Regions from separate parts of the Homo sapiens genome. Here all the other regions are linked to region 3. The links come from fine-mapping of genetic effects on gene expression. A gene starts in region 3. Each other region holds a variant in brackets. All regions are shown on one strand. Distances are from middle to middle. Region 1 has its middle 30 kb from the start of BICD2. Region 2 overlaps IARS1 (isoleucyl-tRNA synthetase 1). Region 3 holds the start of IPPK (inositol-pentakisphosphate 2-kinase).

Region 1 (10,902 bases), 120 kb after region 3:
GTAGAGAGAAAGTGAAGCTTCTAGATGGAAAGAAGCTGTCAAGTGGGCCACTTGCTGAATACTGAAAACAATGAGAAGGTACCATGTGGGCTAACACAAAATTCAATTCAGACACTGAACATATTAATAGGAAATTTTAGCAGAACTTGTGAGAAAGACAGTGTCTAAGTTGAAAGCTTGCCTAGTCTTTTCATTAAAGCCACTGAATGGCCTTAATGTTTTAAGTAGAAACGGGAGGATCCCTCACCTTCACTACATGTCATTCCATCTCCCAAAATTCAGATGTAAGACAACTTTAGGAGTTTACGTTTTTCCTATTAAGTAATGAAGTAAACTGTTAAGAGTTAAAGTCATCTTAGAATTTAGGTTTCATACTGGACTTTGCTCTCTTCCCTTCTCAGTCCCAGCCAGTCGAATTTGGTCTTCTGGGGTCAACCCAAACCTAGGTCAGATGGTGTAAACATGTGTCATCAGTTGAGGCTGCTATAACAAAATACCACATGCTGCGCTTAAACAAAAGAAATTTACTCCCTTGCAGTTCTGGAGGATGGAAGTTCAAGATCAAGGTGCCAGCAAGGTCGGGTTCTGGTGAGGGCTCTCTGCTTGGCTTGTAGTGGCAGCTTTCTCACTGTGTCTTCACAATGGGTTGAGTGAGAGAGAGCTCGGGCACCAGCATGCTAGCTCTCAGGTGTGTCGCTCTTCTTATAAGGACACTAATCCCCTCGTTTAAAAAAAAATCATTATTTATTTATTTAGTGAGACAGAGTCTCACTCTGTGTCCCGCTGGAGTGCAGTGGCATGATCTCAGCTCACCGCAACCTATGCCTCCTTGGCTCAAGCAATTCTTGTGCCTCAGCCTCCCAAGTAGCTGGAATTACAGGTGTGCACCACCACACCTGGCTAATTTTTGTTTTCTGTTTTTTTTTTGATAGAGTCTCTCTCTGTTGCCCAGGCTGGAGCACAGTGGCATGATCTAGCCTCACTGCAAGCTCCACCTCTGGGGTTCACACCACACTCCTGCCTCAGCCTCCCGAGTAGCTAGGACTACAGGTGCCTGCCACCATGCCCGACTAATTTTTTTGTATTTTTAGTAGAGATGGGGTTTCACTGTGTTAGCCAGGATGGTCTTGATCTCCTGACCTCTTGGTCCACCCACCTGGGCCTCCCAAAGTGCTGGGATTACAGGCTTGAGCCACTGTGCCCGGCCTGTATTTTTAGTAAAGACGGGATTTTGCCATGTTGGCCAGGCTGGTCTCAAACTCCTGGCCTCAAGTGATCCACCCACCTCTGTCTCCCAAAGTGCTGGGATTACAGGTGTGAACCTCCACATCATCATTAAGGCCCTACTCTCACGATCTCAATGGTTGATGGGTTGATGTAATTAAGGTGAAAATATGGAAGAAAATAGGAATTTTGAATGGACTTTATGTGAAGTGGTTGCACCTCCTTTACCTGAATGTGTTAACAGGATGGGTATTATGTCCGACTGGGGAACAGGTCTGTATCTAGTATTGTGAAGCAGAAGGCACGGACGTTTGCCCTTTGGCCCATATTAATTGGACACGCTAAATGGGAACCCACGGGCCTGAGCCCAGACAGGTTGTTAATTTGAAAAAGTGTAAAATGCTTGGTGGGCAAAGAGACTTTCACTTTAATAACCTGTTGGAGGCTGGAATCCTGGTACTGTGGTCTCTGTGCAATAACATTATGCATGAGTGCCACCCAGTGGTGACCACTGGGATTTTGGACCAGGAAATCCCCAGACCTGGTAGGTAGTAGCTTGCGATTGGGCATTAATTGAAACTGCCCCTAAGACTGAAGGACATACTCTCATCTTAAAGCCTGAAATACACATGTTGTCTTGGGGGATGGCAGAGATACAGTTCAATAAGGAAGGCACTGCTCAGAAGAGTTCCATAATAAAACGGAAATGGTTTCTACAGGAGCATGATACAGAGGAATGCAAGGAGGGCTTTTCCCCTCTGGCCGGTTTCGGAACCAGCTGAGGATCTGCCAGGTCTATGGCATCATGGATGGTGCCCCATGAACAGCTCTCAATGGACAACAAAGAGCTATTTGGTTTGTGGTTGGCAGTTTCAAGGTGGATGGACAACATCCAGATCTGAAGGCCACCACATCATGAGCAATAATGGGAAAACTCATATTGAAAAAGGCAAGAACAAATCAGCCCAGCTAGATGAACTGCATGCTGCGTTTCTTGCTGCGATGAAAGAATGGAACAATCATAAGAGCTCGTGTTTGGGTTTTTACTGACTCATGGGCAGTGGCCAATGGCCTGGCCATGTGACCAGGCAGAGGGGCAATGGCAAACTGGGCTGTGAAGGGATGCCAACATGGAGCACAGCACTGCAGGAATTTAAGGGGCACATTAAAGTAGGTCATATCAATGCCCACCTGAAGAATCCCTCCCAGGATCTGTGATCAGATCCGGTAGGTGGATATCCTGGTGAACAAACTTGAGGTGGCCACCTAGGTTCAACAAAGGAGTGGGTGACAGTGCAGGGATGGGCTGCTCAGAAACATGTCCCTCCTGCACCCTCAGAGACACAAATGCCAACAAGAAATGCCTTGACAACAAGAAGATGGAGACCACAGGTGGCTAAGGGGCAGATTCCCCAGAGGGAGAACACCGCACATGCAGCTGGCAGGTGGACTGTACGGGACCCCTGCTGGTAGCCCTGGAGGGAGTTTATAAATGGGTTCTGGCAGGAATAGACACTTACTCTGGACTGAGCTTTACCTACCCAGTGGCAGATGCAAATGCTCAAGATACTATAAAAGTACTGAGCAGAAGTCACTGTATCAATGTGTGTCACTAAGTTACATACCTTCGGACCAAGGAACACACTTTACAACCTACACAGGGCAAGGAGACATCCCATCAAATGGGTATATCATGCTGCACATTATCCTCAGAGTAGTTTGTGAGAGAATTGAAATGGGCAATGGAAATGTTTGTTATCTTACATGGGGAGAGATAAAAGCGTGAAGGCTTACACACCTCCATGCATGTGTGCTCACACTTAACATGTGGTGGTCAAGGAGGATCCCCACTAGATAGATCCCTCCACTCTTGGGGTGATCTGGGGAAGATGGCCGGGAAGGATGCTGCTACGACTATGCAGTTCTTCACAACAGCACCTCAACTTTCTTGTCTCCTACCTGCTGAAAAGAGCCTGAGATCAGGCCCACAGCTGCAAGTGTTGGAAGCATCTGCCACTGGGTAGGTAAAGCTCACACTACCACACCTAGCTAATTTTTGTATTTTTAGTAGAGACAGGGTTTCACCATGTTGGTCAGACTGGTCTCGAACTCCTGATCTTGTGATCCGCCGGCCTTGGCCTCCCAAAGTGCTGGGATTACAGGCATGAGCCACCGCACCCGGCCAGAGGCAGGAATGATTCTTAAGTGAGAAACAGTTGTTATATCTTTTAACATTTGTGTCAGAAATCCTAAAGGTCTGATGGGATAGCTGTGCCTCCACTGCATCTGGCAAATCAGAGGTGGACAGTGAGTGCAGCTGTATCTCCTGGTGGTCAGGGCAGCCTCACAGTTCGTCTCTTTGCAGCCCTACCTTACATGACTGGAAATGGCCCTGCGGGAGGCACCTGCTGAAGTGGTATTGCTGCTGGCCATCTGGGCCTACACTGCTGGCCATCTGGGCCTACACAGTGGATGAACCTAACATCCCTTCATCCTTTCTAAAGGTGTGAAAGTTGGGTGAAAATCAATGACAAATGGAGAGAAGGAGAAATAGTAGCTGAGGGCAAAGGAATGAATAAATGGGTTATGCAATGAGAGAAACCCAACAATATATTGGTGCCTCGAGGTAAGCTCAGAGCAAGGGAATTATATTGTCTCTTAGCACAGTTATACCAGATGCCTGAAAGGGTAAACTTGTGTGTTTGTCAAACCATCCCTGTTTTAGGAATCTGACAAGGTCGAATAGCAACCTGCAAACCTAGTGACATCACTGTCAGAGACACTGTGGTCACACGACGATGACCAAGTGGAACTCTAGCATCTTTCAACTCTGACTTTTCAGGGTACATCTACAACAAAGGGTATCTTTTGGGAAGGGTTTTTTGGGAACTACTCCCTATTGGGGCATCAGACTGTGTAGTGTATGATTGCTGGTTGACTGACTCCTGTGTAACTATAAACCCAGGTGATCAGAGGCTTACAAAGTTCTCCCTGGTTATCTTGGACGACATAGAATGGTGGCCTGTCCAACATGCCACAGTGTGTTGTGCACAGACACAAACCACCCTGTTCTGTGAATGGAAAGCTCTTACACAAACCAGGAAAAACCACTGGGATGGTGATGGAACTAAAGCAGTAGGCATCACCCGGTGGGTCCAAATTCCCCAAGGGAGCAGCCCCTCCATGCACAAG[T/G]AAGACAATGGAAACCTCTATGACATATTCAGACTAAATGACAATGAGGTGTGACCACGACTTACAAAATGCAAGTATGGGGAAACCCAATACTTTTGAGTAATGAAACATGTATCCTAACTGCGCTCAGCCACGAGGACACAGTGGCAACAGCATGCATGGTGGCCTGAACACTGGCCCACCAGACAGAAAAGGGCCTTAGGGGAGACGGGTGCTGGCCTCGGCTTCATGGGATGAGCTGAATTTGCTTTTTTTTTTTTTTTTTGAGGGGGAATCTCACTCTTGTTGCCCAGGCTGGAGTGCAGTGGCGCAATCTTGGCTGTCTGCAACCTCTGCCTCCTGGGTTCAAGCTATTCTCCTGCCTCAGCCTCCCGAGTAGCTGGGATTACAGACACCCGCCATCACGCCCAGATAATTTTTGTATTTAGTAGCGATGGGGTTTCACCATGTTGGTCAGGCTGGTCTCAAACTCCTGACCTCAAATGATCCGCCCACCTTGGCCTCCCAAAGTGCTGGGATTCCAAGTGTGAGCCACCGCACCCGGCCTGAATTTGCTTTTGATGAAGAGTAGCACTCAGTGGGGAAAAATTTATTGAAAAAAATAAGCAGATTAAAGGGAGCAAGGGGTGGGAGTCAGCCTGGGAGGACAATGAGGCTTCGGTGAAGTGGGTTGGGTAACGTTGGGTAAAGCTAGCACCCAGTGTTGGGAAAGGGCTTCTCCCTAGATCCAACAGGGTTACTTGACTATTTTGTTACAGATGGAGGCCAAAGTGGCCGTGGGGCAGTGGCCCTCTGTCCTGGTTGCTGAGGCTCAAGGGGCCCACCTGTGGGAATCGTATGGGTCTCCAAACCTATGGAAGCTCTCTGAGAGCTCTTGCAACTTCGACCAATGCACTCTGCTCTGGATAACCCACATCCTGTAGTATAATCAGCAGGAAAAGGAACTAGTCTGAATACCACCTACATCCCTGTAGGAGAGAGTATGTGAGCCCTGCTATATAACAGAAGCCAGTCCTGCAATACAAGCCTGTGAACTAAGACAAGGCGACTGACTTTGAAGCCCAGGAATTACCGAGTCATGGTCAATCGTTTTTTTTTTTTTTTTGAGATGGAGTCTTGCCCTGTCTCCCAGGCTGGAGTGCAGTGGCATGATCTCCGCTCACTGCAGCCTCCACCTCCCAGGTCCAAGAGATTCTTCTGCCTTAGCCTCCCGAGTAGCTGGGACTACAGGCGCTCACCACCATGCCCGGCTAATTTTTGTATTTTTTAGTACAGATGGGGTTTCACCATATTGGCCAGGCTGGTCTTGAACTCCTGACCTCATGATCCGCCCACCTTGGCCTCCCAAAGTGCTGGGATTGCAGGCGTGAGCCACCACGCCTGGCCTGTCATGGCCAGTTGTAATGATGCCTGGTCATAATAATATCTGCCATGTGAACACCGGCGGATTCTATTGGAAAGGCATAGCAAATGGCACTTAAATTATGACTGATTTATTCTGTGATGAAGCTAAATTGTGCCATGACCATACTGCAGTGTGATGCAACACTGCATTTTTAGTAAGATAAGAATGACACATTCCATGTTTCATAGCATAGTATAGGAAAAAGGGAACACATCAACTTTTGCCATCTTCCTGACAAGCCAGGAGTTAAAAATAAGTAAATTAAATAATAATGAAATCTAATCCTGTAATTTCTAAGCAAACATTACTTTGACTTTAATCAATAAGGTTATTTAAAGTTCATTGAAAAATCCATATTCCTGCGTTTAGACTCATAAGTATTAACCAATTACAGAAGAATATAATACAAATAGTTTCTAAATGGACATAGAATTTAAATTCAGATTTTAATGAACTAACTTCTGGCACTGTAGAGCACATAATGTAGTCAGCATTTTGCAAATGTTGGAGTGTATACTTAGTAATGGAGTTGGTTAATAAATGTCAATGCAGTGAGACTGAGAATGGGATAGATTAAAACTTTCTTTTATTCTTCTTGCCAGCTCTGTGGCTACATGGGTGTGAACTGGAACGAGGCAGAAGGGATCTATTTTTCTATTTAGTGCCAATGAGCCCCCATGGATCTACGCAGTGTGCTTTGTGCAGATGAAGGTAAAATCCCTCCCTGAGAGCAGGTCTGTGCTCACGGGTGTCGTTGGTTTCTCCATTCACAAGCGTCAGGTGGAGCTTGGGTGGAAACCACCTTGATTCTTCAGGGCAGCTGCTCTGGTTTGTTCCATTTTTAGAGTTAGATTGTTTCCTTTAAGAGCCCTATACTTCACAGTAACAGACTCTGATTTGGAATTTGCATTCATTGTTTATTTTATTTTGTTTTTGCCCAAATAAGAAATTGCACATTTTTCTTTGCACTCTAAAGTCAAAAAGCCGAAGTGGGAATCATTATAAATGCAACATTTGAGTTCCTGTTATAGCTCCTTGTTCTTGGAAATGTTTCATTTGCATCAGGGTCGTGCCAGACATGGTAATGAAGGCCCTGAACAGAGGGAGAACCATCAGGGACTGCTGTGTGAGGAAAGCGTGGACTTTCATCCTGAAAAATGAATGTATCCATAACAACATCCTCAAACATAGACAGCTCTGATTAGTGCTCCACGAGCCCTCTCTCTAAAAACATCTGAAAATGCATCACTCTTCCTGGGGCTCACATGAATGGGGTAAATCCTTACGAAGGAGGGGCCTTGGTGCTCAGGAGGTGAAGCGCACGCCATTCTCCAGGTGTGCACGTGGGTCCGAGGAATCAGGAGCTCAGGCTGCACAGCCCTGCCGCTGCCAATCACTGCTCACAGCCCCTGAGCCCTGCTCAGAGGCAGCAGCATTTCCTACTAGGGGCAAGGTGCAGCAGTCACCAGGACACCCTGGCTCTTATTTGCAACTGCTGCATTACCTAATAGCCACCCATGGCTTCACGAGGAGGGATGCTCACAGCCCCCTGCAGAGCAGCCTCCAGGTTCCAGCCCCACAGGGAAGCGTCTGCCGTGACTTCCACCCACACAGCCTCTGCTTCCACACAATCACCCTGAATGGCAAAGGCTAAACACTTTGGTAATCCAAAACAGTAAACCCCAATTGTGCTACTCATAGTCCAATTTCTAAAATTTTACACTACAGCTGTTGAAAAATTCTAATGTTTATTTCACTGCCAGAATCAGCAGGGTAATGGACGTTTCAGCAATAAACATCATGAGCAACACATGAAATCTAATTAGCATTATTCCAATTTGCAACAGTTAAGTAAGTTATTACTCTGGGCTTTCTCCCCCCTAGATACCAATGCTTAGATTCTTGTAAAAATGTCAACTCTAGAAAAATCCTCTTTCCACTTCCAATTTTTTCTAATTCAATCTGTTTTCTAGTATTTCTTTAGAAACAAACTAATGAAATTCTCTATCATCCAGCTGTATGTACAACAGAGTGAGCTTTGTGACGCCCTCTGCACAGGAGCAGTATCCGTGAGACAAAAGAGTGGGACTCTGTCACCATGATCACAGATGAAGGATGCCGGGACACTCTGTCAAAGGAGACTCAGAACTCCATATAGGACGCTTGACTAAGATCCCAGGTACTGTCACCATGACTGTCACCCACAATTTTCCCAGGAGGGAGACACCAGTAGGAAAGAGAACAGCCCCTGTGATGTCAGGGCCAACCTGTCTCCAGCCTCCGTTCTGCTAAGTAACTCTAGAAGTTCCTCTCCTGTCTCTGGCCCAACTGACCATGTGTCAGATGCCTGGGAAAAAGGAACACAGACTTGATGATGATTCCTGGTTCTGAGCTCATGTCGCTGTGCTCCCAGGCTGTTGACACAGGCAGGACCCCTGGGCTTCTTGGATTCAAGCACACAGTTAATAACACAAACCCTGACAGCCTAGGCTTGAGCTGGGGTTCGTTGGGGGTGGGTGGCAGTGGTAGGGGAATAACTTAGGAAAGTTATTTAAGCTGCCTGGGTCTGAATTTCCTTGTCATAAAATAGGGGAAATAGTTGTACTTACATGGCACATCTGTGATGTGAATTAAATATCTGGCACCTACAACAGTGCCTGGCCCCCAGGATTTGGTGTGTGAAGAGTCCAGGTATTGGTACGAGTCCATGTCCACTGTCTTCCCTGATCCCCAAACCCAGGTGCACCCATTAGTAACTAAAATGAGGCAGACAAAAGGGATGAGTGATGAGCGGCAGTGGTTGCCAGAGGTAGGTCCAGGGACTATATTTCTTAAGACATTCTGGGTCAGGAATAATTACATAGAATGGAGCCAATAATTCCAAATCCATGTATTTAGTTAATAAGCTTTTATTTAGGGCATGCAGGTGCCAAATTTTGTCCCAGGCACTTACATATATTTAATCATTTAGTCTCCTCACAACCCATGAGAAATAAACATACTGTACTATCATTATCTACAAAGAAACATGGAATAAGACCCTAGAGAGAGCCTCCAGCAAAAGGGTGTCTGTGATCATTGTACATTTTTCAAAACATGTTCAATGACAAAAAAACCAGCTTTATAAAGTGCATGTTGAACTGTGATATAACTAGCAGTGCATCTAAGAGTGAAACAATGAACATTAAAAATGAAAGGATCCTTGGGAAACAATCCAGCCCACCTTTTGTCTCTGTTTTGGTACAATTGTGTTTTTTGTAAGGCATGTTTTTGTTCCTTCACAATGTACTATTTACAGCAAACAGCAATATTTTTACCTTTCCATCTTTCTGTCCTCCCTGAAAGCTAACTCTCTAGAGGGAGAGAAGACAATATGGGGTTTGACGCAAGGCGGTGCCCCAGCGCCAGGGCAGAGGGATGCACAGGCCTTATAGGAGCCCTTAGGGGCAGCGGGCGGGGCAGCTGCACAGACACAGCCTTGGCGTTGTTCAGAAGGAGGGACATTCCAGGTGCTGGGCGAAGCAGAGGAGGTGCAGCCCTGGGGCAGAGCACAGTGAGGCTGGGCATGCGGCGGGCTATGGGCACCTTCCTGCTCGGGGACTTCTGAGCCTCCACTTGTTGAAAAACAGAAAAAAGCCAAGGCTCAAGCCAGTAGGGGAAGGAACCGCAAAGGTGTTTTTGCATGGTTAAAACAAAGAGATGATCGAAATATGATTTCATGGATCTGTGGTTCATCCCCATGCAAAGAGAATTTTTTTCTTAGGTTCAGAACGCTTAAAGAAGATAACATGGTGAACAAATCTCCCAGGGAATCCACTTGAGAGATGAGGCACACTGACCACAGATCAGTGAGGTCCTCAATTATTAAAGTCTAGTTGCTCCGTTAGGATGAAAGTCTCTGTGGGAAGTAACTTCTAATTAAAGCTTGAGGTGTTCCTTTATATTAGCAGTTCTTGAGGGAAACTGGCTTGGCCATCACAGTGGAGACTGGAGAAGGCCGGGGTGGTCCCTGGATACTAGAGGGAAGTTGGGGAGAAGTGGTGGACAGTGCAGCCCTCTCACAGCACAAGCTCCTGGTCATCGGAGAATGGCTGACAGAGTAAACCCTGCCATGACCTAAGCTCTTAAAATGTCTGTCAAACTCTTAGGTTTATTGGACTTGGGAGTCCAGTAGTCGAGCTCAGTAACCCATACGGGGTCTGATAAGCTGTGATGTCACATTCCCGATGAGAGGAGGAGTAGCTCCAAGTTCTCATGTATGAGGTCTTGTTCTCCATGGGAGGGGGAAATACACTTCCAGTCCTTACTGCAGCAAGGCATATGTTATCCAAAGGACCACCAGAATGGCTAGAGAGTAGAAAACAGAGTTTTATTGGCAATATCAGTTTGCAAACCAGGGAGAGATCATCTCTGGTAAGAACCGAAAGTGCTCTCTTTGAAGAACAAAGAGAAGATTAGAGGTTTTATAACAAGGAGAAATGTTATGTATTCCTCTTTGAGTAAGTTCATTGGCACTAGGAAGGGTTTGGGGAGCTGGCAAGCTCTGAATGATGAGCAAAGGTGGTGGGAAAAATTAGTCACAGAGTTGTAGCAAGTTATCTCAGAAGCTAAGGATAAAACTGGTCTCAGGTGGCAACAAGCAGTTCCAGCAGTCAGGCTTGCAGAGAATTACATTTTTGGAGCAATGTTTTGTACCATGAGTGCTTTATCCTCTGGCTTCTCAACTCTGTTTTAGTTGGATGTGATAAGAATGACATGAATATGTACATTTTTGCAGCACTATGTATGATAGCAAAGACTTGGGACCAACCCAAATGCCCACCAATGATAGACTGGATAAAGAAAATGTGGCACATATGCACCATGAAATACTATGCAGCCATAAAAAAATGGGTTCATGTCCTTTGCAGGGACATGGATGTAGCTGGAAACCATCATTCTCAGCAAACTAACACAGGAAGAGAAAACCAAACACCACATGTTCTCACCCATAAGTGGGAGTTGAACAATGAGAACACATGGACACAGGGAGGGGAACGTCACACACTGGGGCCTGTCAGGTGGTGGGGGGCAAGGGAAGG
Region 2 (10,902 bases), 460 kb before region 3:
GAGTTGGGGGCTAAAACACTGACCTGAGTATGGACTTCTCAACTTCAAAGTTAATTGTTCAGAGTGAGCCTTTTTCCCAGCCAATACTTGGTGTCAATCTTTTATATTCTTCTTTGGTATAGTGGACAGTATACATAAAGCCACTTAATCTTGTTTCCAGTACAGTACTCTGTATAAAGGAATTTGGCCTTGCCCTTGGATGTTATGCTACATAGGAATGCCTCTGTTTACCTGGGGATCTTGAATCATACTGAATAGCCTTGACAGTATGATTTATGGCTGGGGTGGGACAAATCTATACAGTCTTATGGTGGGGGGGGTGTACAACACATCAGAAATACCAACAATGTGATTTAGGGTGGAGGTTTTGGGTCATGCACGAGCAGCTGACCTAGAGACTGCGATTAACCACATGGACAATCAATCATGGATATGTAAAGCAGCCTCAGTAAACACTCTGGGTTCCAAGGCTTGGGTGAGCTTCCCTGGCTGGCAATACTCTGTGCATACTGTCACACACTGATGCCAGTAGAGTAATGCTTGCTGACTTCAGAGAGACAGGACAAGAGCTGTGTTTGGTACTTCTCCCGGGCTCTGCCCTCTCCTCTTCCTTTGGCTGATTTTGATCTTTAACATTTCCCTGTCATTAACTGTAACCACGAATACAATAGCTTTCATTGAGTTCTGAGTCTTTCTAGCAAATTATCTAAGCTGAGGGTTGGTTTTAGGAATCCTCCAGGCTTACAAGTACTCTTGTCTTCCATTCACTCCGACTTCTACCAACCAGTCACTTTTTACCTTCCAGATGCCAACTGTGGGGGGAATAAAGTTGCTTAGCAACGTGGAAATGGGAGAAGCTATAAGGCTTCCCAGTGTTCACGCAATCGTCCCTATTTCTGTGCCTCTTCTACCTTTCATCCCAGAGGTTAACTGGTGCTGTGAATTCTGAAATGTAAGTAAGTTTATCAGTTCCTCCATTGATTTAGAATTGGGGTTTCCTGGGTCTACCAAGTTAGTTAACACCGTCTATCTGCTTTCCAATTCCCCAAGTTCTGGTTGTTTCCTCTATTTTCTCCAACTTGTGGGTTTTTGTGTGAATGCATCTGTTGTAGTAGCCATAGGGATGTATCATTCAGATCTCCCTTCAAAAGAATCTGACATGAGGAGTGTAGTTGGTACTTTCAGATCCATCAAGGCATTTGTGCGAAGGCCACGCTCCCCTTGGTCTCCTCCCAGAAACTGACTTGAGGAAGTCAGAGAAACAAAGCCAGGCTATTTCTGCCCAATTCTGAACTCTACTAAAAGGAATCCTTGCTTGGGAACTCTCCATTGGCCTGACCAAGACTTCATCTTAGAGTTGCACTGCAGTCTAAGTTTTTGCTAATCAATCTTCATTTTCTCTTTTTACAGGTGTCAGACCCACACTGCAGTCTGAAGGCTCTCTCGACCTACGCTTGCTCCATCTCCCGTTTATCCTCCATTTATGTTTCCTCTAATAAATTCTTGCACATCTAACTTTGTCATGTCATCTGCTTCTCTGAGGACTCAAATTATCACCTGGGATTTTGGAAAGAAGTTTTATTAGATGTCTAGTCCACTGTCTTAATAAGAAACCACCATGAAGTTTTTATGTTCTTCAAAGTTTACACATTTCAAGTTTCATTTATCTATGGGAGAATGAATTACTTTCAACACATTTATATCTGAGTTTGTTTATTGTTCTGATTTACTGAAACTTAAAATATTCCATCAAATTATCCAGGAAAATCCAGGTGGCAGAAATATATAATATGTCCATTTCATCAAGAGGTCTCAAATAAATTTTAAAAGGCCAGAAAATGATATATATACTATGCCATTTAAATCACTTCTATCTTCTGTACTTAAGAACTCAAGTATAGAAATAAACTGTGGGCTGAAGTAACATTGTAACCTGCTCCCAACATGACTGCATAGGTGTCTAAGGTTAAGTGTGAAGATTACTGTGAGGTCTCAAGTTACTTGACTAATCAATCCCATTTGAATTTCAATCCAAGCAGCATATTTTACACACACCTGAAGGAAATATCTTCAGTGTGTTCATGTGTGTGTCTATGTGCATGTATGTGTAGGGGATAGGTGTAATTAGGGAAGGGCTGACCGAACAACATTGATAAGTACATGCTAGAAGTCTGCTGTTGTTGGTAACACAGAAACATACACAGTCTTCATATTCAAAGTCTTCACGGGGATGTCTTCTGTAATTTCTAGAATGGAAAGAAAAAGTTGAAAAAAAATCAGTATTTTACCTATTGGGGGTGAATATTTAAAAAAATGTTAACTGCTTGTGTAGTAAGGAATTTGGCCTTATCCTAAGAGTTCTGCCTTTTGTCCCAGCTCCTGAGGTGAACCTCTAAATCCTTGGAATTTCCTGGTAGGAATCTTTGTTTCTCATGGTGGGTATGTTCACCAAACCTGACAGTTGTTGCTAATGAGACAATTCAGGGTAGTGCTGGCCAGGACAGAAAGACCAAGTATATGATTTAGGATGGGGACTTTGGGTCACATGGTATATCAGTTGAGAAAGACAGCAATCATGCCTACAGAATGAAACCTCAACAGAAACTGGACACCAAGGCTCGAGTGAGCTTCCCTGGTTGGTAATATAGTCTCTGTGTTGTCAGATGTAAGGGATGAGAGGAAGAAACATTATCCATGACTCCAGGGTCTCTCTCTCTCTCTCACTCTCGCTGGTTCTAACGTGTATCCTTTCCCTACCCTAATTCAAACCATGAGTGTAATACCTTTTAGTGAGTCTGAGTCCTCCTAGCAGGTTACTGAACCTGAGGGTGGTTTAGGAAAATCCCTGGAACTTGCAGTTGGTGCCAGCAGTGATGGGGGTCTTGTGTGGATCTTTCCCTGAGTAGAATCCTCACTCCTTGCAGGTGGAGTTAGATATCGGGCAGACTCCTGGAGCCTTCTGGAGGACTATGCCATCACTTCACAGTTTGGCTAACTCTGGGTACTGCCAAGATGGTTATTTTTCCTCATACACAGATACTTCCTATGTCTACAAAAAAAGCCTAGAGGCTGTGCCAACTCAGTATCCCAGATATGTGGTTTCAAAATATGATTCTCTATAATTTGAAGAACAGCTATTTTCTACGTCTGGAGAAGTAAAAGTACATAATAAGCCTAGGACATGTTGCTACGTGAGAAAGCAAGAATTTACCAAAGACAAAGGATCATGTTAAAGAATACAGGATCCAATATGGCCAATGACGAAAACTCTGAGCATCCAAAAATATAACCCAAATGCAATTGATTGAAATATACTGAATATACAACTCAAAAACAAAAAAAAAGAAAATTTAAAGTTATCTGCCTACTGTGGAGCATTTTGCTTCTAGTCAGATCTGAATTTAAAGCAAACAGATGAGCTTCCTTTAAAAATAGCTCTTGTCCTACCTAGCAGCAATCCTAGATGTGAGAATACTCTCAAAGCTACTTCCTTAATAGATAATTACAGGACCTGGAGATGATGTTTAGAGTTTAGTGGAGCAAGCAAGAAGACATCTAAGGGTTTCTAAAATGGTCAACATTTTGTGGCTCTTCTAATTTACCAAGTTATTGATACTTTATGAAAGACAATTCTGAGAGAAAAGGCATAATGAAAACGAAGCTATAGATACTAGATTGGAAAGATACTGAATTAGAAAAAGTTCCAACTTTGTGGTAATCTTAGATAAATCACTAAACATTTAAAAGTTCTCACCCACTAAACTTTTGCCTAACTAACGTCACAGAGTAAAGAGAATACAGAAAGGCAGCACAGGTTAAGAATGGTTCTGTGAATTGCAGGTAGTATTATAAATACATAATTCATACAGACATGGTTCTACCCCTGACCAGGTTCAATCATGCCACTGCATTTGCTTGCAAGAACAAGTGAGAGATAAATGTCATCTTCAGCTCCACTGCACAACAGTACTTGGTGACCAAAGGATTTGAGGGACAAGAAGAGTTAAGAATTATCTCTAAAGTTTTATATAAGCTTATCAAAATAGAAAGCTACATTATTAGATGATCTTTACTACCATACCACAATGAAAGAGCCAAGTGTGTTCGAGGGAGAGTGAAAAAAGCCTTTGATAGAGTGAAAGACTCATGGACAGAATTAGCAAGACAGGGAAGGCCCAGAGCAGGAAGGATCTTGTGTGGAAGGGAAGATTCTGAGGCATAAGAGAATAAGGAGCTTTGGGGGCTCTAAGCAAGGGAACAAAATCAAGGCAGGAATGTTCATGAAGATAGCTCTGGTGAAGAGTACAGACTGCAGACTGGTGACTTAGATGGATGATGAGGCCCAATGATGAGATGAGAGGGAAAACGACAAAGGAGAGTCACTGAAAATAAACCCAGGGAGGGAAGGAGGAACCCAAGAAGAAATAGAGCTTTAGTATTTAACATCATGACAGAAAATTTAAAAGTACGATATGCAACTAAATTTAAAAAAAAAAGCTGCACAGGAAGAAAACGGGAGAATTACACAGAGGCCAAAAATAATGACTCCCATGGGGTCTGGTGGCTTAATGCTTTTGGCACTAAAGAGCTAGGAAAGCAGGGAAAGAAAAGCCTCCGGTATATACAAACCGGGAAGTCCAACAAATCTCTGCTGAAGAAACTGGAACTTCAAATAAGAAACCCATAGCAAAAGGGTTAATTTGAGTAAGTTCCTTCACCACAAGAGAAAAAGTGAAGAGAATGTAATCGGTTAATAATGGCCTTCCAAAGATATGCCCAGGTTCTAAATTCCCAGGAGCTGTGAATGTTCACTTTATTTGGAAAAAGAGGAAACAGAAGAGAAGGAGGCAATGTGACCACGGAGTCAGAGACTGAAGTGATGTGGCCACAAGTCAAGGGATGCCTGGCGCCACCATAAGCTAGAAGAAGTATATAAGGAATTCTCCCACAGAGCCTTCAGAGAGACTGTGGCCTTTCTGACACCCTAATTTCAGTGTCTGGCCTCCAGAGCTGTGAGATGACTTGAGCCATCCCATTTGTGGAAATTTGTTGCAGCAGCCACAGAAACCAATACAGAGAAAATCACCTCACTTAGCTTTGTTTTGGAGTAGGGATAGACAGATCCTGTCTCCATCACAACTCCTGGCCTTTGTGTATGACTGGGAATGCCATAGATTTTTTTTCTGAGATGGAGTTTAACTCTTGTCGCCCAGGCTGGAGTGCAGTGATGCAATCTCAGCACACTGCAACCTCTGCCTCCCAGGTTCAAGAGATTCTCCTGCCTCAGCCTCCCAAGTAGCTGGGATTACAGGCATGTGCCACCATGTCCAGCTAATTTTAGTAGAGATGGGGTTTCACCATATTGGCCATGCTGGTCTTGAACTCTGCCCACCTCAGCCTCCCAAAGTGCTGGGATTACACGAGTGAGCCACCACGCAGACCCAGTCACAGCTTTCTTAACATTCTCCCTATGGTCCAAAATGATTGAGTTTAAAGTGTGTCTGGGTTGTCAGTGTCTCCAAGGAACTAGACGTATGCTTCTTAAAACTGGGCTTCAACAGAAACATAACAGAACAAGCAGAGCAGACGGGCAATGTAAACAGAAAGACGGAAACTCAAAGAATAGAATGGTCTGGGTGTGGTGGCTCACCCCCGTAATCCCAGCACTTTGGGAGGCCCAAGTGGGTGGATCACCTGAGGTCAGGAGTTTGAGACCAGCCTGGCCAACATGGTGAAACCCTGTCTCTACTAAAATTACAAAAATTGGGGGAGGAGCCAAGATGGCCAAATAGGAACAGCTCCGGTCTACAACTCCCAGGGTGAGCGATGCAGAAGACAGTGATTTCTGAATTTCCATCTGAGGTACCGGGTTCATCTCACTAGGGAGTGCCAGACAGTGGGCGCAGGTCAGTGGGTGCACGCACCGTGCGCGAGCCGAAGCAGGGCGAGGCATTGCCTCACTTGGGAAGTGCAAGGGGTCAGGGAGTTCCCTTTCCGAGTCAAAGAAAGGGGTGACGGACGGCACCTGGAAAATTGGGTCACTCCCACCCGAATACTGCGCTTTTCCGATGGGCTTAAAAAACGGCGCACCACGAGATTATACCCCGCACCTAGCTCGGAGGGTCCTACGCCCACGGAGTCTCGCTGATTGCTAGCATAGCAGTCTGAGATCAAACTGCAAGGCGGCAGCAAGGCTGGGGGAGGGGCGCCCGCCATTGCCCAGGCTTGCTTAGGTAAACAAAG[C/T]AGCCGGGAAGCTCGAATTGGGTGGAGCCCACCACAGCTCAAGGAGGCCTGCATGCCTCTGTAGGCTCCACCTCTGGGGGCAGGGCACAGACAAACAAAAAGACAGCAGTAACCTCTGCAGACTTAAATGTCCCTGTCTGACAGCTTTGAAGAGAGCAGTGGTTCTCCCAGCATGCAGCTGGAGATCTGAGAACGGGCAGACTGCCTCCTCAAGTGGGTCCCTGACCCCTGACCCCCGAGCAGCCTATCTGGGAGGCACCCCCCAGCAGGGGCACACTGATACCTCACACGGCAGGGTATTCCAACAGACTTGCAGTTGAGGGTCCTGTCTGTCAGAAGGAAAACTAACAAACAGAAAGGACATCCACACCAAAAACCCATCTGTACGTCACCATCATCAAAGACCAAAAGTAGATAAAACCACAAAGATGGGGAAAAAACAGAACAGAAAAACTGGAAACTCTAAAAAGCAGAGTGCCTCTCCTCCTCCAAAGGAACACAGTTCCTCACCAGCAACGGAACAAAGCTGGATGGAGAATGACTTTGACGAGCTGAGAGAAGAGGGCTTCAGACGATCAAATTACTCTGAGCTATGGGAGGACATACAAACCAAAGGCAAAGAAGTTGAAAACTTTGAAAAAAATTTAGAAGAATGTATAACTAGAATAACCAATACAGAGAAGTGCTTAAAGGAGCTGATGGAGCTGAAAACCAAGGCTCGAGAACTACGTGAAGAATGCAGAAGCCTCAGGAGCCGATGCGATCAACTGGAAGAAAGAATATCAGCGATGGAAGATGAAATGAATGAAATGAAGCGAGAAGGGAAGTTTAGAGAAAAAAGAATAAAACGAAATGAGTAAAGCCTCCAAGAAATATGGGACTATGTGAAAAGACCAAATCTACGTCTGACTGGTGTACCTGAAAGTGATGGGGAGAATGGAACCAAGTTGGAAAACACTCTGCAGGATATTATCCAGGAGAACTTCCCCTATCTAGCGAGGCAGGCCAACGTTCAGATTCAGGAAATACAGAGAACGCCACAAAGATACTCCTCGAGAAGAGCAACTCCAAGACACATAATTGTCAGATTCACCAAAGTTGAAATGAAGGAAAAAATGTTAAGGGCAGCCAGAGAGAAAGGTCGGGTTACCCACAAAGGGAAGCCCATCAGACTAACAGCAGATCTCTCGGCAGAAACCCTACAAGCCAGAAGAGAGTGGGGGCCAATATTCAACATTCTTAAAGAAAAGAATTTTCAACCCAGAATTTCATATCCAGCCAAACTAAGCTTCATAAGAGAAGGAGAAATAAAATACTTTACAGACAAGCAAATGCTGAGAGATTTTGTCACCACCAGGCCTGCCCTAAAAGAGCTCCTGAAGGAAGCGCTAAACATGGAAAGGAACAACCGGTACCAGCTGCTGCAAAATCATGCCAAAATGTAAAGACCATCGAGACTAGGAAGAAACTACATCAACTAACGAGCAAAATAAACAGCTAACATCATAATGACAGGATCAAATTCACACATAACAATATTAACTTTAAATGTAAATGGACTAAATGCTCCAATTAAAAGACACAGACTGGCAAATTGGATAAAGAGTCAAGACCCATCAGTGTGCTGTATTCAGGAAACCCATCTCATGTGCAGAGACACACATAGGCTCAAAATAAAAGGATGGAGGAAGATCTACCAAGCAAATGGAAAACAAAAAAAGGCAGGGGTTGCAATCCTAGTCTCGGATAAAACAGACTTTAAACCAACAAAGATCAAAAGAGACAAAGAAGGCCATTACATAATGGTAAAGGGATCAATTCAACAAGAAGAGCTAACTATCCTAAATATATATGCACCCAATACAGGAGCACCCAGATTCATAAAGCAAGTCCTGAGTGACCTACAAAGAGACTTAGACTCCCACACATTAATAATGGGAGACTTTAACACCCCACTGTCAACATTAGACAGATCAACGAGACAGAAAGTCAACAAGGATACCCAGGAATTGAACTCAGCTCTGCACCAAGCGGACCTAGTAGACATCTACAGAACTCTCCACCCCAAATTAACAGAATATACATTTTTTTCAGCACCACACCACACCTATTCCAAAATTGACCACATACTTGGAAGTAAAGCTCTCCTCAGCAAATGTAAAAGAACAGAAATTATAACAAACTGTCTCTCAGACCACAGTGCAATCAAACTAGAACTCAGGATTAAGAATCTCACTCAAAACCGCTCAACTACATGGAAACTGAACAACCTGCTCCTGAATGACTAATGGGTACATAACAAAATGAAGGCAGAAATAAAGATGTTCTTTGAAACCAATGAGAACAAAGACACAACATACCAGAATCTCTGAGACGCATTCAAAGCAGTGTGTAGAGGGAAATTTATAGCACTAAATGCCCACAAGAGAAAGCAGGAAAGATCCAAAATTGACACCCTAACATCACAATTAAAAGAACTAGAAAAGCAAGAGCAAACACATTCAAAAGCTAGCAGAAGGCAAGAAATAACTAAAATCAGAGCAGAACTGAAGGAAATAGAGACACAAAAAACCCTTCAAAAAATTAATGAATCCAGGAGCTGGTTTTTTGAAAGGATCAACAAAATTGACAGACCACTAGCAAGACTAATAAAGAAAAAAAGAGAGCAGAATCAAATAGACGCAATACAAAATGATAAAGGGGATATCACCACCGATCCCACAGAAATACAAACTACCATCAGAGAATACTACAAACACCTCTACGCAAATAAACTAGAAAATCTAGAAGAAATGGATAAATTCCTCGACACATACATTCTCCCAAGACTAAACCAGGAAGAAGTTGAATCTCTGAATAGACCAATAACAGACTCTGAAATTGTGGCAATAATCAATAGCTTACCAACCAAAAAGAGTCCAGGACCAGATGGATTCACAGCCGAATTCTACCAGAGGTACAAGGAGGAACTGGTACCATTCCTTCTGAAACTATTCCAATCAACAGAAAAAGAGGGAATCCTCCCTAACTCCTTTTATGAGGCCAGCATCATTCTGATACCAAAGCCAGGCAGAGACACAACCAAAAAAGAGAATTTTAGACCAATATCCTTGATGAACATTGATGCAAAAATCCTCAATAAAATACTGGCAAAACGAATCCAGCAGCACATTAAAAAGCTTATCCACCATGATCAAGTGGGCTTCATCCCTGGGATGCAAGGCTGGTTCAATATACGCAAATCAGTAAATGTAATCCAGCATATAAACAGAGCCAAAGACAAAAACCACATGATTATCTCAATAGATGCAGAAAAAGCCTTTGACAAAATTCAACAACCCTTCATGCTAAAAACTCTCAATAAATTAGGTATTGATGGGACATATTTCAAAATAATAAGAGCTATCTATGACAAACCCACAGCCAATATCATACTGAATGGGCAAAAACTGGAAGCATTCCCTTGGAAAACTGGCACAAGACAGGGATGCCCTCTCTCACCACTCCTATTCAACATAGTGTTGGAAGTTCTGGCCAGGGCAATTAGGCAGGAGAAGGAAATAAAGGGTATTCAATTAGGAAAAGAGGAAGTCAAATTGTCCCTGTTTGCAGATGACATGATTGTATATCTAGAAAACCCCATTGTCTCAGCCCAAAATCTCCTTAAGCTGATAAGCAACTTCAGCAAAGTCTCAGGATACAAAATCAATGTACAAAAATCACAAGCATTCTTATACACCAATAACAGACAAACAGCCAAATCATGAGTGAACTCCCATTCACAATTGCTTCAAAGAGAATAAAATACCTAGGAATCCAACTTACAAGGGATGTGAAGGACCTCTTCAAGGAGAACTACAAACCACTGCTCAAGGAAATAAAAGAGGATACAAACAAATGGAAGAACATTCCATGCTCATGGGTAGGAAGAATCAATATCGTGAAAATGGTCATACTGCCCAAGGTAATTTATAGATTCAATGCCATCCCCATCAAGCTACCAATGCCTTTCTTCACAGAATTGGAAAAAACTACTTTAAAGTTCATATGGAACCAAAAAGGAGCCCGCAACGCCAAGTCAATCCTAAGCCAAAAGAACAAGGCTGGAGGCATCACACTACCTGACTTCAAACTATACTACAAGGCTACAGTAACCAAAACAGCATGGTACTGGTACCAAAATAGAGATATAGATCAATGGAACAGAACAGAGCCCCTCAGAAATAACGCCACGTATCTACAACTATCTGATCTTTGACAAACCTGAGAAAAACAAGCAATGGGGAAAGGATTCCCTATTTAATAAATGGTGCTGGGAAAACTGGCTAGCCGTATGTAGAAAGCTGAAACTGGATCCCTTCCTTACACCTTATACAAAAATCAAGATGGATTAAAGACTTAAACATTAGACCTAAAACCATAAAAACCCTAGAAGAAAACCTAGGCATTACCATTCAGGACATAGGCATGGGCAAGGACTTCATGTCTAAAACACCAAAAGCAATGGCAACAAAAGACAAAATTGACAAATGGGATCTAATTAAACTAAAGAGCTTCTGCACAGCAAAAGAAACTACCATCAGAGTGAACAGGCAACCTACAGAATGGGAGAAAATTTTCGCAACCTACTCATCTGACAAAGGGCTAATATCCAGAATC
Region 3 (10,902 bases):
CTTCGCTTCACTGGGAATGTATGGCCTCAGATAGAAATACAAAGCACATTTGACACCGGATGAAAAGTGACATCACCAAGATGCCTGTGGAGGATGGGAGCCCAGTACTCTGCAGGCAAGAGCAGGGAGGCCAGACTGGAGACAGCCTGGGGTCAGGGCGCAGTAAGTGCTGGCCCCTTGTCCAACCTGTATGGGGCATGTCCTCAAGCCTCGGCAACTCCGTCCTGACCTCATGGTGTCCTCTGCAGGACTGAAGCAGGCACAGGTGTGGGCCATGGGGGAGGTCACACACCCACACAACTCTCAGAACATGGGGAGGCCTGTGGGGATAGGCACACCTCGTGCATGGGGCTGACCCCTATAGGCATGGAAAGCCTCACTGCCTGTAAAGGGGAAGCAGGGCTGCCTAGAGGCCCACAGTGAGGGCCACAGGGAACTGTGAGCAAGTCCGGGCCCTCAGATCTCCCAACCGCTTGGCAACAAGGCAGGAGTGGCCGGGCCCTAGGCACAGCCTTGCTCTCTGCAGACACAGTAATGATGCTTTTCTCACCCTCCTGGATCGCAGCTCTCAGAAGACACAGGAAGTCACTGGGGAGCTTTGCTCTGACTGAATTCTGATGCAGAAGGAGGCTCAGTCAGGCAGAAGAAAAGTGGCTGTGTGACCTCAGAAGGTGTAAAAGTAGGAGGTGAGCCAAGGCCAAACCAACAAACCCCCGTGCACGAGAGGCACTGTCACAGGCTGCAGTCACCAAACAGCAGACCTCATCACGCAACTGCAGATACAAAGAAAGGAATAAACAAAGAGCGAGCCACAAGCACAGCTCTCCAATGAGCTCAAATGAGACAAGAAGGAACATCACCAGGAAAGAAGCCACATCAGCTGCGTCAGCCTAGAGCGCCACTAAAAATCCCAAATGCAGAATACATCACTAGTTTAAACAAAATGCTAGCAGTAACAGAAAGCTAAGACTATTTCAACTAGGTCCAGCTAAAAATTGTAAAAGGGAGCGACCAAGGGCTTGGGCACATGTTATACAGTCAGAAAAAAACAGAGAACATAAACGTATGTGCTTTCAGCATCCACAGTAGGAAGTATGGCCCAGTTAACAGTCCTGCAGGACTGCACAATGGCTTTCCACTTAACCTGTTCTAAGTGATTCTGTAATGGATATCTTTGTGTATAAGATCTTTATTTACGTTTCTAATTATCTCCTTAGAACGGACTACTAGAACAGAAATTAGTAAATCAAAGAGTATAAACTTTTTAAAAATTAATCTTTTTTCCTGAGTATCATACATATCCATTGTAGGAAATTCAGAAAATATTTAAAAAACAAAAAAAAGTAAAAGTGATTCGTGATACTATCAGTTACAGCCACTTAGAACATTTTCATCTATTTTCTTCTAATCATTTTGTAATTATAACCACATCATGCATCTTCTTTTGTAACCTGCTTTTTCTACGTAACTGTAAACACATCCTCATATAAAGGACTTAATTCATCCACTACAAAATAATCATTTAAATTATTAAAATATACAAAATCATGCTGTATGGCAAAAAAAATACATATATATATGATCTATGAACCAGAAATCTTAAAACACAAGATGAGAAGAGAAACAGTAGAAGGGCACCTGACCGCTTGAGCTTCACACCTTCAATGCCCAGACAAATATCCCAAGCACTAAACAGGTACCAAAGGGACACCAAAACTCCCCAGGCAACAAAACAATTTGCAGAAATGATCTGAAGCTCTCAGACTCTCAGAAAGGTCACGAAACTGGAACAACTGGAAGTGAGCAGCTTTGTCCACACATGTGATCAATTTAGTTGGCTGGTAAGCCAACTAAATGGCAAAGTCTTTCCTGTCACCTCTGTCAGTAAGAAGGAAAACATCATGACAGCTTAGTGTCATGACAGGAGTGGGCCACCTTCTGCCCCTGCTCCCCAAGGCTGAGGTGGTCCGGAAGGGGCTCAGTGCCCCAGACAAGTGCATGATCCAGATCTGAAGACACCTAGGAGATGGAATGACAAACCAAACCTAAAGTGACCTTCATAGGACAGGACACTGAGCCAAAACCAACAAGCTGAAGGCGAAGGAGGCAGGCGCAGGCGTCACACAGGAGAGAAATCCTGCGGCAGTGCATAAAGGGGCAACCTGTGGACTTCACTAACCTGAGATGTGGCCACTGGCCCAAGTACTGCACCTTCAGGCTGCAGCGAGGAAACTGTGCCCAGATGGGAAGTTCCCTCATCAAGGAGCCCCCACAGGGTCAGTGTCTGGAGCTCCAGACACACACCAGGGAACATGCCAGGCTGCCGAGAGCCTCTCAAGCATGCCACAGGGTCCACACCACATGAGGCAGAGAACACCATGGTTACCTGTGCCTGGGAAAGTTCAGGTGCACAACCATCCCAAACAGAGGCAGAATGCAAACTGACAGGCAAAATGAGAATCATCCTGGGCCGTCTCTGAGTGGAAGGGCCTTGGGGAAGCTGACCACCTTCTGTCAGGAACACCTTTAAACGCCTCTCTATGGCTGGCCTGCTATTTACCTTCCTGCCCACCCTGGGCACAACCTCCCACCCTCCTGTAGCCCACACCTAGTTCCTCCATCCCCAGGCCTCATTTCCTACAAGTCCTGCGCTGCACAGAAGGCTCTCTCTCATCCCATGTTTGCATACTGCAGGAAGAACATCACTGTGCTCCTTCTAGTGCTGACAGCCAATGACCATGCAGATCTCCTTACCTAGGCCCTCGGCTCCTGCAGGACGAGCTCAGGCTGGCTGAAGGCGCATCATGTTCTCATGGTAGAGGGGATGGGGGTCAGCACAGGACTCATTAGGGACCTTTCAATTCTGAGAGAAGCTGATGTCCTCTCAGAGAAAGCAACCCTCTCCTTACCTGGAAAAACTTGGCAAAGGCCTCCCTCTCTCTTGGACTGAATGAGGTGGATCTAAGGAGTACAGTAGCAGGGTCCACCTGCTCCCACACCCGGCTGGAAGGAGGCTGGGCGCATGCTCAGCATCCACAAGACCACGGACTCCTCCTATTCTACCTCACCCATCTCTTATCCCACTGACACACACCCTCTGCTCGAACTCAACAGGTCCTAAAAAGCTGCCTTCTGGGAATTGCTCTCTCTCCTCCTCGGTCCACAGCCTGAGCAAACAGGCCACAGGGCAGAGCTGGTGGGCTAGGCTTGGTTCAGGTTACCACATCAGGCACAGGCTCCATCTGACCTTAACTTGATGGGAAACATTTTCTCATGAGACTATGTGCAGTGATAATCTTCAATTTCAAATGATGAGCTAAAAACAACAACCAAGCAGGAATGAGCACAGTAAAGCAAGTTTAGATTTAAAATAAAAAATGAGGCTGAGTACAGTGGCTCACACCTGTAATCCCAGCACTCTGGGAGGCTGAGGCGGGCGGGTCATTTGAGGTCAGGAGTTTGAAACCAGTCTGGCTAACGTGGTGAAATACAAAAAAATTAGCCAGGCATGGTGGCAGGCACCTGTAATTCCAGCTACTTGGGAGGCTGAGGCAGGAGAATTGCTTGAACCCAGGAGGCAGAGGTTGCAGTGAACCAAGATTGCGCCACTGCAGTCCAGCCTGGGAGACAGAGCAAGACTCCGTCTCAAAAAAAAAGAATGAATAGCATAGGTCTAGAACAGCCTGGTGGCTGTAGGTAAATTTGAAAAGGTGAAAGAAAAAATAAACAATCAACCTGGCGTGGTGGCTCACGCCTGTAATCCCAGCACTTTGGGAGGCTGAGGTGGGTGTCACTTGAGGTTAGGAGTTGGAGACCAGCCTGGTCAACACGGTGAAACCTCATCTCTACTAAAAATACAAAAATTAGCTGGGCACGGTAGCGCATGCCTGTGATCCCAGCTACTCGGGAGGCTGAGGCAGGAAAATCGCTTGAACCTGGGAGGCGGAGGTTGCAGTGAGCCGAGATCGCGCCACTGCACTCCAGCCTGGGCAACAGAGTGAGACCCCGTTTCTAAATAAATAAATAAATAAAAATAAACAATCATTACAATCAGAGCTGTGCAACAGGGTAGGGCCAGGCTGCCCTGGAGATGCCTACTCAGGGAAGGGGGTGGACACATACTTGTCTGGAACGTGCAGAGAGATCCAAGTGCCAGAGGCAACTGCGTCAAAGCCTCTGCTCTTTCAACATGGGTGTCCTTTTGCTCCAAGCCTGAAACTTGCTGCTTCATCTGCCACTACTTTTGAAATTTAATGTATCAGCCCTCACTAAAGAAAAGTCTTAGGTTTACCTAAAATGCAGAGATACATCTAATCTTACCAAGGAATTGGAAGATTAGTATTTGTTTTGGGAAAGGATTCAGGGGATCAGCACAGTAACCCAACAACAAAAGGACTCACGCAGAAACATCCCTCACTTTGCCAATAGTGGACTACACAAGAGAAGGACAGCTTTAGGTTAGCCTGGTCCATTATTAATTCACCTAAAGATCTTGAGCAAAGCTTGTAGTCTCTGTTCTTTAGTTCCCTGTGCTAATGAGCAACAAAATCCAAAGGCACAACCTAGGGGCTACCTGGGTGTTTGCAGCTTACACTACAGCTGACCAATGCACCCAGCATAGGAACAACAGAAGCAAGGCAGGACTCCACTGCCTACATCATCCCTGACAAGCTGTTCGACTCGGGCAATGCCCTTAACCTCTCTGATTTTCACTTTATTTATCTGTCCAAGGGATGACAATTATCACTTGCTAAGCATAACTTGATGGGTTCCTGCGTAACTGGTCTTTGCAACAATCCCACAAAGTGAATTCTACTACTAGTTCCACTTCACAAATGTAGACACTGAGATTCCTGTGCCTTTAACACCCATGCTCTAACTCCTCCCTACATGACACCTATCCTCGCCTCCCTCACCCCCCTCCCCCGTTCCAGCCGGCCACATTCCTGCGTGGTTGTACCAGACAGCAAAAGGTCAGAGAGATCTGGGCCCTCACAGAAACCCACACGCTTCACTCTTGGGATTCACCTTTGCGAGATCTTACTGCAGTTTCTAAAACTTTCACCCTCGTTGAATTCAGGTGAAAGCCTTCAAATTCTAAAAGGTTGAGAAGAGGACCTGTGGACAACATCCCCTTACTATTAACAGCACAGCAATTCCGTAGTCTCACGAGGCTGAACTCTTTTGGTGCTGAGAGTAACAGCACTGTGGGCACTCTGCTTCTTCCTCCAGTGCTGGCCGGGCCCTCCGTCCCAACCAAGCCTCCACCCCACTGCGGCCTGGCAGTCCGGCGGGCATCCAGGCGGGAGGCGGCACCGCGTGAGGCTGAGCGCGGCACCGACGGGGCGGGGAGGGGGATGTGGAACTGACTCTGACGGGGAACGGGAATACTGAGGGGACGACAGACCGGCCAGGAGAAGGATCTGGGGCAATGGGAGACTGACCCAGTAGAGAGGGGATACTGGGGTGATGAGGAACCCAAGCGGTAGGGGGGGATGCTGGAGGGTGGGGGAATTCCGGAGACCGGCCGGGGAGGAGGAAGGTACTGGGGGGACGTGGAACCGACCCTGTTGAGGAAACGGATAATGGGGGCGGGGTGATACCGGCCGTCGGAGTGAGGTACCGGACCTGCGCCGCACGTCCACCGCTCACCTGCGCGTGGGCCACCACCAGGCTCTTATTGCCCTCTCCGTGGTACCCCCATTCATTCTCGTCCATCTTCCCCTCTTCCATGCCCAGGCGCAGCCCTGGCGCCTCGCGGGCTAGGACTCGGGGACGCGAGCTGGGGGCCGCCCGCCTCGCTGGGAACCAGCCGCTGCGGTCGGGGGAGGAGCGCCTGTCAGCTGCCGCCCCCGCTCGACCCCGCCGCGGCGACTAGCAAGCTGTGGCCGCCGGAAGCCACGCCCCCGGCGCCTGCCATGACGGAGTCGGGCAATTCCGGGTTCGTGACACTTTCCTCACACCGATCGCGACGGTGGATGGGCCGGCGGCCATCTTAGGTACTGGTAGAGCGACTCATTTCCGGAACGCGGTCTTGGGAGCCGGAAGAGAAGCTTCCGGCCTCGGCGCCGGATGTGTAGCTGGCGGAAGGAGCCGGCGGCTTTTCGGCGCCCGGTAGTGACCGGCAGTCCCCGGGTAGCCAGGGTGTCTGGGTGTTGGGACCGCTTAGTCGCGAGACCCCAGCAAACCTCTTGGCGTCTCTGAGCCTCAGCTTTTGCTTCTGTAGAATAGGGTGTACTCATCGTACATTTCATGGGAATACCTAACGCAGTCATTTGGATGGTCCTGTGAGGTAGAAAACATTGTCCAACGTTCTACGCGAGGAAATGTGGCTGGGCCACAGGACTGGACTCCCCAGTCCCGCTTTTGCCTGAAGACTTCGAGGGACGCAGTTGGAGCGCAAGGCTCCTGCTTGGCGGTGAGGCAGAGGGCTAACGACCTTCCTTCTCCTAAATTCACTGATGCGGCGGCAAGAATGGCACCGCCTCGTAGAGCTACCGCATTTCCCAAACTCGTAGTCTCAGGACCACTTTATACTCATAAAAATGAGGGCCCCAAGCTTTTGCTAATGTGGGTTACAGCTATCGATGTTACCACATTCTAAGTTAAAATGCTTTAAAGTTTTTTGTTGTTTCGTTTAAAAGTAAACAGCCGGGCGCGGTAGCTCACGCCTGTAATCCCAGCACTTTGGGAGGCTGAGGCGGGCGTATCACCTGAGGTCAGGAGTTTGAGACCAGCCTGGCCAACATGGTGAAACCCTGTCTCTACTAAAAATACAAAAATGAGCCAGGTATGGTGGCGCAGGCCTGTAATCCCAGCTACTCCGGAGGCTGAGGCAAGAGAATCATTTGAACCCAGGAGGCGGAGGTTGCGGTAAGCCAAGATCGCGCCATTGCACTCCAGCGTGGACGACAGAGTGAGACTCCATCTCAAAAAAAAAAAAAAAAAAAAAAGTAAACATTACATTCCACGCCCACCACCAAAATAAAGGAGTGGTATTGTTTTACACTTTTGCAAATCTTTTTAAAATCTGACCTAATAGGTTCTCACATGTGCTTCGGCATTCGGTCTGCTGCAATATATTGCATTGGTTGACATACACATTGTGAAGAACATCTGCAGTTATGTAGTTCACAAAGAGAGGACCTGCAGACCCAACTTTGAGAACGGCTGGGCACCTTGCCAGGCCTTGGGAATTGTAGTGAAATCAGGCCAGTGACTCAGGAAAATGAGCTGAAGGCTTTGAGCATCTCTTTCCTCCATTTTAGGCCTCAAAAGGGAGGCTGGGGCAGGGCATGGTGACTCATGCCTGTAATCCCAGCATTCTGGGAGGCCGAGGTGGGCGGATCGCTTGAGCTTAGGAATTCCAAACCAGCCTGGCAACATGGTGAAACCCTGTCTCTACAAAAAATTAGCAGGGTGTGGTATCTGTGCCTGTAGCCCCAGCTACTTGTAGGGCTGAGGGGCTGAGGCGGGAGGATCGCTTGTGCCCGGGAGGTTGAGGCTGCAGTGAGCCGTGATCAAGCCACTGCACTCTAGCCTGGGTGACAAAGCAAGATTCTGTCTCAAAAAAAAAAAGTGGGGGAGGCTGGGTGTGGTGGCTCACGCCTGTAATCCCAGCACTTTGGGAGGCCAAGGCGGTGGATCATGAGGTCAGGAGTTTGAGACCAGCCTGGCCAATATGGTGAAACCCCATCTCTACTAAAAATACAAAAATTAGCTGGGTGTGTGGTGCACGCCTGCAATCCCAGCTACTCGGGAGGCTGAGGCAGGAGAATTACTTGAACCCGGGAGGTAGAGGTTGCAGTGAGCCCAGATCGTGCCACTGCATTCCAGCCTGGGCAACAGAGCAAGACTCCGTCTGAAAGAGAAAAAAGGAGGCGGTGGGGGGGGGGTGGTGGGGAAGCTGGGTGGGAGGTGGCTCAGGACCCTCCACAGGGATGGTTGAGAAATGGGGGCAGAAACAGCCACTCCTGGAGGTAAGTAGCTCCCAACAGAGAGAGAGGACCTTAGGGCTCACAAAATTCAGTCCTTCCCACGCCCCCACAAGGCCAGGGAAGCTTAAACATGACTGCAGTTGAGTTCCTCAGCACCCTGCAAAAAGGAGAGTTGGGGTGAGATTAAATAATATATTAAGCATTAAAATATTTCCTTGAAACCTCTAAGGTGCTAGAAATGTTCTGTATCTTGATTTTTTCCCCCATGGAGGTGTATTATATCCCTGATACTTTAAAATTGCCATTATATGGTGATGATAAAAAGCAGATTCATGCTGGGGATGGTGGCTCACGCCTGTAATTACAACACTTTGGGAGGCCCAGGTGAGTGGATCACTTTGAGTTCAGGAGTTCAAGACCAGCCTGGCCAACATGGTGAAACCCATCTCTACAAAAAATAACAAAAAAATTAGCTGGGCATGGTGGTACACACCTGTAGTTCCAGCTACTCAGGAGACTGAGGTTGGAGGATTGTTTGAGCCCAGGAAGTGGAGGTTGCAGTGAGCTGAGAGCACACCACTGCACTCCAGTCTGGGTGACAGAGCCAGATGTTGTCTGAAAAAAAGGTTTTTTAAATCCAAATTTGGTTTTATCATTCTTTTTAAATTCACAGGCAACAGCACCTGGGCAGACCATGCCATTTCCCCTCCTGAACTCGGGTGCTTTGAAAGAAGTATAGGGGGCCGGTCGCGGTGGCTCCCGCCTGTAATCCCAGCACTTTGGGAGGCCGAGATGGCCGGATCACCTGAGGCTAGAAGTTCAAGACCAGCCTGGCCAACATGGTGAAACCCCGTCTCTACTAAAAATACAAAAATTAGTTGGATGTGGTGGCGTGTGCCTGTAATCTCAGCTACTTGGGAGGCTGAAGCTGGAGAACTGCATCAATCCAGGAGGTGGGGCTGCAGTGAGCTGAGATCCTGCCACTGCACTCCAGCCTGGGTGACAGCAAGACTCCGTCTCAAAAAGAAAAAAGAAACAAATATGGGGACGAACAGTGGGAATGCAGAGGAGAGGGTTCCCATCTGAGGAGGCTGGAAGAAAAGAAGGCTGGAAAAGAACCATGAGAAACACATGTCTGTCGTTTAAGCTATACAGCCTATGGTATTTTGTCATGGCAGTCTGAGCCAAGAGAGGGAGCAATTTAATTAGATGTGTTATGCTCTTCTATCTAGGTCCCATATAGATTGCCAACACTGTTAGTGCTTTCTCCTTTTGTGTTAAAAAGGAAAGATAGAGGAAGGGAGGGAAGAAGGAAGGATGGAGAAGAGAACAGAAAAGTAAAATGAAAATGTCTTCTAACCATATTGAAAAGCTATCCAGGGCCGGGCACGGTGGCTCACGCCTGTAATCCCAGCACTGTGGGAGGATGAGGCGGGCGGATCACAAGGTCAGGAGATCGAGACCATCCTGGCCAATATGGTGAAACCCTGTCTCTACTAAAAATACAAAAATTAGCCGGGCGTGGTGGCAGGCACCTGTAGTCCCAGCTACTTGGGAGGCTGAGGCAGGAGAATAGCTTGAACCCAGGAGGCAGAGGTTACAGTGAGCTGAGATTGTGCCACTGCACTCCAACCTGGGCGATAGAGTGAGACTCCGTCTGGAAAAAAAAGAAAAAGAAAAGTATCCAGAAACAGGGTGGAAAAGCATTGGTAATTGTGGAGTACCAAGTAATGAGTTCTTACTCTACTCTTGCTATTTTTATGTGTGTTCGGAATTTTCCTTACTAAGAAAGTATGTGATACCATGCGTTGCCACGATATGGCATGGCATGATGAGAAGGCACTTCACCTCTGTGGCGTTTCCCCCCAACCCATAAGCCCTTTCTAATCATTAGAAAACATTAAACAAACCCAAATTGAGGGACAATTCACACAGTTCACACAGTTCATACTGAGACACGGACCAGGAGAAGGAAGGATCTGGGGGAACGGGAGACTGACCCAGTCTAACCAGGACTTCAAAACTGCCATGGTCATGGAAGACAAGGATAAACTGAAGAAGTGTCACAGATCAGGGAACCCTAAGGAGACATGATGACTCAATGCAATGTGGGATCTTGGATTGGATCCTGGAACAGAAACAGACATTGATGGGAAAACAGGTAAAATCCAAATAAAACCTAAAGTTTAGTTAATAGTAGTGTACTAATGTAAGTTGTTTTGTTTGGGCATGTGCCAGTTATGTGTATTCACTTTGGGGGCGGCTGGTGAAGAGCACATAGGAACTCTGTACTACCTTTACAACATTTGTGTAAATCTAATCCCAAAATAAAAAGTTCATTTACAGAAAAAGAAGACACTCATTGTTCAGCTCCTTTCATAATTAATTGAAATTCAAATAATGAAGTGTCGGCCAGGCACAGTGGCTCACGCCTGTAATCCCAACACTTTGGGAGGCCCAGGTGAGTGGATCGCTTGAAGTCAGGAGTTCAAGACCAGCCTGGCCAACATGGTGAAACTCCAACTCTACTAAAAATACAAAAACTAGTCAGGCTTGGTGGCGGGCACCTGTAATCCCAGCTACTTGGGAGGCTGAGGCAGGAGAATTGCTTGAACCCAGGAGGCGGAGGTTGCAGTGAGCCGAGATCGCACCACTGCACTCCAGCCTGGGTGATAGCAAGACTCTGTCTCAAAAACAGACAAAAAACAAATAATGAAGTGTCTCATATATCAGTGTGGTGAAACAGTCTTAGGCAGTGTTTGCCATGGGTGATGGGGAGGGGACAGACAGCACACATATGCACTGCTGGTGAGGGTGGGGAGGCATTGCAATGTTAAAGTTCAGTTTGGCCATATTATTAAAATTAATGCCACTAATCTCACTTGACTCATCTCCACAGCTAGAAATTTAATCCTATGGAACTCTCCCTTAAATACTCAGAGATAGGTACAGGGTGTTCATACAG

Evidence for each region. PIP is the estimated chance that this variant, and not a neighbour inherited with it, causes the effect.
Region 1: its variant is fine-mapped to the expression of IPPK in fibroblasts (GTEx, PIP 0.99).
Region 2: its variant is fine-mapped to the expression of IPPK in whole blood (TOPMed, PIP above 0.99). The same link has a PIP of 0.9 or more in blood mononuclear cells.

Annotation. Positions count from the first base shown.
Region 1 is chr9:92,789,241-92,800,142 of GRCh38, forward strand. No RefSeq gene overlaps it. Among named protein-coding and RNA genes, the nearest start is that of BICD2, 30 kb to the left of the region's middle. RefSeq lists enhancers at 8,826-9,326, 9,327-9,827. The variant T/G (reference allele first, on the strand shown) is at 4,417.
Region 2 is chr9:92,208,644-92,219,545 of GRCh38, forward strand. It overlaps IARS1 (isoleucyl-tRNA synthetase 1), which reads right to left. Exons shown (of 34, transcript NM_002161.6): 34 at 1,564-2,246. The coding sequence ends at 2,164. LOC112268048 (a long non-coding RNA gene) reads left to right here and starts at 806. Exons shown (of 2, transcript XR_002956919.2): 1 at 806-952; 2 at 1,411-1,515. RefSeq lists an enhancer at 5,732-6,628. The variant C/T (reference allele first, on the strand shown) is at 6,244.
Region 3 is chr9:92,664,256-92,675,157 of GRCh38, forward strand. IPPK (inositol-pentakisphosphate 2-kinase) reads right to left here and starts at 5,876. Exons shown (of 13, transcript NM_022755.6): 1 at 5,653-5,876. The coding sequence starts at 5,733. LOC107987095 (a long non-coding RNA gene) reads left to right here and starts at 6,107. Exons shown (of 2, transcript XR_001746837.2): 1 at 6,107-6,418; 2 at 8,611-10,291. RefSeq lists enhancers at 4,978-5,147, 5,888-6,337, 6,348-6,397, 7,152-7,446, 7,704-7,873 and a silencer at 5,668-5,847.